Linked DNA regions of Homo sapiens: region 2 is linked to region 1. A link means that fine-mapping ties the variant in region 1 to the expression of a gene that starts in the linked region. Tissue or cell type: whole blood. Region 1 holds a variant in brackets; the other region holds the start of a gene. All regions are shown on one strand. Distances are from middle to middle.

Evidence for each region. PIP is the estimated chance that this variant, and not a neighbour inherited with it, causes the effect.
Region 2: SPARC starts here. The variant in region 1 is fine-mapped to the expression of SPARC in whole blood (TOPMed, PIP above 0.99).

Annotation. Positions count from the first base shown.
Region 1 is chr5:151,654,130-151,656,817 of GRCh38, forward strand. It overlaps LOC105378231 (a long non-coding RNA gene), which reads left to right. Exons shown (of 2, transcript XR_944417.3): 2 at 1-1,320. It overlaps LOC124901116 (a long non-coding RNA gene), which reads right to left and starts at 376. Exons shown (of 2, transcript XR_007059007.1): 1 at 337-376. The variant A/G (reference allele first, on the strand shown) is at 1,138.
Region 2 is chr5:151,685,306-151,687,993 of GRCh38, forward strand. It overlaps SPARC (secreted protein acidic and cysteine rich), which reads right to left and starts at 1,610. Exons shown (of 10, transcript NM_003118.4): 1 at 1,560-1,610. It overlaps CLMAT3 (colorectal liver metastasis associated transcript 3), which reads left to right. Exons shown (of 5, transcript NR_109873.1): 4 at 524-646; 5 at 1,077-2,605. RefSeq lists enhancers at 721-1,550, 1,551-2,378.

The DNA.
Region 1 (2,688 bases):
CCAAGAATATATAAAGAAGTCTTATAAATCAACAAGAAAGAAGAAAAACAACAGAAAGAAATGGACAAAAGAAAAAGCATTTTATAAAAGAAGAAATGCTCATGGCCAGCAAACATATGGAGATGTTCAAACTCATGTGAAATGTAAATCAAGACCCAATAAGATAAGCTTTTATGTCCACTAAAATGGCAAAATGTTAATAGCTAGACAATCCAAGTATTGGAGAACATACAGATCCATGGGATCTCTTACATATCGCTTATAAGGGTACGCATTAGGACATAGGACACTCACTTAGAAAAAGTGTGGCATTATCTTGCAAAATCAAACACTCACATAGGCTGCTGTGCAGGTCCTGAGTCTGTTTGCCCTCAGATCCACTCTTTGCTATGCCCTTATGTCCTCAGTTTTCCAGCAGGATCTCGGCAGCCATGTCATCTTGCTTCCAGTTGGGCTCAGTTAATAAAAGAGAGAGAATGGAAGGTGGAAAGAAGGGAGAAGCCAAGGTGTTTCTCACCAGCACCCTCCCCTTCTCCTCTCAGGTAACATCCCCTGTGGTGGCCACAGCTCTCCGATGGGTCCAGTTCCCACAGGAAAGCCAGCCATGATTCTAACTTCTACCAGGTGACCCTGGCCCTGGGCTCTGGTGACACTAACCTTTTGTTTCTCTAGTCCTGGGGAGGGGTAGTAACAGCTTCCTGCTATTATTAATTTATGGATTGCCTCATTGCCTCCTGTGAGGCTTCTCAGCTATTGATTACCATACTACTCAGCAATAAAAAGGAAAAAACTATTGATACATGCAACAACTTTGTCGGACCACAAGAGAATTTTACCAACTAAAAAAGCCAGTCTCACATTGTTACATACTATATGATTCCACTTACATAACCTTCTAGAAATGACAAAATTATTGAGGTGAAGAACAGATTAGTGGTTGCCAAGGGTTAAAGACAGGGTTGGGGTTGGAGAAAGAAATCAGTGTACCTAAAAAGAAGCAGCCAGAGGGATCTTTGTGGTGACGGGACAGTTCTGTATCTTGATTGTGGTGGTGGTTATACAAATCTACGTGTAATAAAGTTTTATGTGTGCATAGAACTATGTACATACTCAAACAAATGCATGTAACCCTGGTGA[A/G]ATCTGAATAAGGTCTGTGGATTGTGCCAATACCAGTGACCTGGTTTTGATACTGTATTATAGCTATCTAAGACATTATTATCAGGAGAAAATGGGGGAAAGGTACATGTACTTTTCTGTACTATTTTTGCAACTTCTCGTGAATCTGTTACTATTTCAAAATTAAAAGTATCTGAAAATCCATAGAGTGGTTTCTGTTTTTTCTGATTAGACCCTGACTGATACTCCTACAACCCCACAATTCCTTCCGCTCCTAGATGTATATTTACCTAGCAGATAGGCCCCAGAGAAACTCATAAATGCATGTGTAGCAGTTATTCATGACAGAAGAAAACCCAACCACTCATAAATAGGAAAATAAATAAATTGTGGTACAAACACGAACAAAATCTTATACAGCAGTGCAGATGAATGTAATATGCTATACACAGCAATATGGATAAGCCTGAACTCATAATGCAATGTTGAGTGAAAAGGGCAGGGCTCAGGACATTATTTATAAGTGTTTTATCAATGTAAAAACACAGCATTTGTTATAAATTTTAAAATTACCTAAAATGATACAACATATTGCTTAGATATATACAGGTGCATGTGTGGGTGTGTTTTTGCTTATGTTGCTGTGATATTTATTATTATTTTTTCCTAATCACTAGAAAATGTGGGAATTATATTAATTGTTAAACATAAGGGAAGGATAGGTCAGGCGCAGTGGCTCATGCCTGTAATCCCAGCACTTTGGGAGGCCAAGGCAGGTGGATCACCTGAGGTCAGGAGTTCGAGACCAGCCTGACCAACATGGAGAAACCCCGTCTCTACTAAAAATACAAAATTAGCTAGGCATGGTGGCACGTGCCTGTAATCCCAGCTACTTGGGAGGCTGAGGCAAGAGAATCCAGGAGGCGGAGGTTACGGAGAGCCGAGATTGTGTCATTGCACTCCAGCCTGGGCAACAAGAGTGAAACTCCGTAAAAAAAAAAAAAAAAAAAAAAACCATAAGGGAAAGATAAACACAAAATTCAGGAAAGTGGTCACAGAGCGGACAGGATAGAGAATGAACATAGGTGTCGCCACTGTTCCAGTTCTCATGTGGGGAGGCAGGCTCATGGGTGTTCAATATATTATTTGAAAGATGATAGATGATAGATAGATAGATAGATAGACAGGTTGATGGATAATGGCTAGATGATAAATAGATAGATATATAGATAATAAATAGACAATTGATAGATGACAGATATAGATGATTGATAGGTAAATAGATGATTGATAGATAAATAGGTAGCAGATAGATTGATTGATCGACTGATAGATAAAAGCAAAAGAGAGTCATGCAAAGACCAACCAATGACAGTGAGTCATGAATCAAGGATCACAACGAATGGCTCTACGACTTGAGGTCTACTGCATTATCTATGTCTCCATTTATTATTAAAAGGAGGTATGGAGTCTAATAACTCTGGGACCTCCAATCTAATGAGAACAGAAATCCATGTGCTCTCGGATTCAGAAAACTGATGCCCATTCTTGTGCCCCATCAGGGTTCTTCTG
Region 2 (2,688 bases), 31 kb after region 1:
ACCAGTCCTCACTCCATCCCCACGTCATGCCCTCTAATCCATTTGAGAATATCTTAAAGCTGAAAGCTGTGACCACCCATATTCATCCTCTCTCTCTCTCTCTCTCCCTCTCTCTCTCACACACACACACACACACACACACACACACACACAGTGCATACAATTTTTAGGGGCTTAGAGATGGCTTGAGGCCCATTCAAAGACCACTCCATAGACCCTGGTTAAGAAATCTTCCTTTGAATATTTTAGAGGACACAAAGCACCCCAAAGAGCCTTCAGTTTCAGCCTTCTTTCATTACAGATGGGGCACTAAATCCAGGGGAGACACTTACCTAAGATCACACATAAAATGCATGCCCGAAGCCTGTGTCCTACTTCTGCTTTGCTTCTCACTAAACCACCAGCACTTGGGGCGTATAGAAATTTAACTCTAAAGCATTACTAGAGAAAACATTTTCTCTAATGAAAAAAATGCTGTCCTTTCCTGAGGAAAATGCATGCCTCTCTGTTCCCTTTTGGGCAGACTGGGAATCCTGGAAGACATAACTCATCCCAGTGCCCCCCTTCCCTTGGAGTCCTTGGAGTCCCTTTCCCTAAGGAAGTCCACTTGACAGCCAGTTCACGGAGCCAGTGGCGGCGAAGAAAGGTAGTGGATTTGTCTGAAGAAGAACTGACACCCTGACAGGCTGGACACTAGTCTTGGGTGGATTACGGAAGGGGACCCTGGAATTCTCTCCCTCTTCCCTTCCCCCTTTCCCCCTTCTGAGAATATCTCCCCCAGCACACTCCACCTCCCATTACACCCATGTCTTGGTTGACGATATCTGATGTCTGGGTTTTCAGATCTAGATAAACTAAGGGCTACTGCCTGTGTTTACCATCCCAAGGAACTCAGGACAGGAACAACACCTAACCCAAGACTGAGGTTGTGATGGTGCCATTTCAGGCAGAATGGTGCTGAAATTTGTGTATTGGGGGGACGGAAGGTGGTGTTTGGGAGTGAGGAGAATTAGAGGAAAACAGAAGGCTTCCCAGAGGTGTGGATTAATGGTGAAGCCTCCCCCTTTGCCTTTCAGAGATCAACTGATTGTTCGTGCAAAGTCCCTTTTGGAAAACAGAACCCCTGACCGAGATCTGGAGGACAGACTCCGGTTGCTGGCCAGGTCCCTGTGGCAGCTGTGATGGGATCAGATTCCCAGGAAAGGAGGAGGCTGCCACATTTGCAAAGGGAGCAAAGAGGACAGGCAGGCAGCCTCTGAAACCAGAGACAGACACAGAGAAAAACAGAGAGTGAGAAAATGCTCCCCCGAAGACATAGTGAGATTATTTTCTGTAAACCTGTAAGGGAAGACAAAGTTACACAGTGAGTCCACCTTCTGAAAAGCAACAGGCAGACAGGACCGAGGGCCATGCTCTTAAGGGGAGCCGTGATGGAGCCGGGAGGAGAGGCGCATCCTCAGCAGAGCTTCCCTCCCTTGCACACGAGCTGACGGCGTGAACGGGGGTGTCGGGGTTGGTGCAACTATAGAAGGGAAAGGCTGGGCGGGGGTCACACATACCTCAGTGGCAGGCAGGCAGGCGGCAGGCAGAGCGCGCTCTCCGGGCAGTCTGAAGGACCGCGGGAATGTGGAGGGGTTTAGAGACAGGCAACAGGAAACCACTCAGAGCTCTGGGCTGGGTCTATCTCCCCTCCACCCCGTGGTCCCTCCTCCTCCTGTCTCCTCCTTCCCCCGGCCTCCTCCTTCTCCCATAGCCAAAGCTGTCTCTGTCTTTCATTTCTTTCCTCCTCTTTTTGCGGTGGGCTGTCCTGACCAAACGTCCCAACCCTGCCTGCCTCATCTGTTCCGGGGCTGCTGCCTAAACCGACTCACAGAGTGCCAGGGCTGGACAGGCCTGGAGGGATGACCCAGAACAGCCTCTTTCTTGTTCAGAGGGCAAGTGAGGCCTGGAGACTGCAAGGAATTACCCAATGGCCCCCAGGGGCAGAACCAGGCCCAAGTGTCTTGATCTTCTAACCAGTGAGCTTTACAGGAGTCCTCCCTAATATTAGGCAATGCTGAGAAGGGCCAAGCAATTCAAGGGGGTTGTATTTGCCACAAAGGCAAGGCCAGGACTTACCACTGTACAGACAAGACAAGCTGCTACTAGTGGTATCATCCTTGATGATTTGGAACTGGTCTTAAAAAAAAAAATCCCACTCAAACTCCACTTGTACCACTAATAGACACATAAGGGATTAGACATCTAGCTGGTGGACCTGTGCCACCAGTATTGAACAGATAAGGTAATTGATGATATTGATGATAATCATAGGAGTAACAATAGCCAAAGTTTACTGAGGATTTAATAATCTTCACAGCAACCCCTTATCTTAGGCATTGTAATTATGACCATTTTAATAATAAGGAAACATAGATGCTAAGTAACTTGCCTATGATCACCTGGCAAAAAGTGGTATGAGAGGGCTGATTCTACGTTTCAACTTGGGTCACTCCTGTTATATATGAACTGCTCAGTGCAACAGGTCTTGGTTGAATGTTTATTTTGTGCCTAACACTCTGGGAGGTATGAGAATTAATAAATACCTGGTCCTTGTCCTCAAAAAGTTTTGTGGTTTCCGGTTTTTTTGTTTGTTTGTTTTGTTTTGTTTTGAGACAGAGTCTCACTCACTCTGTCGCCCAGGCTGGA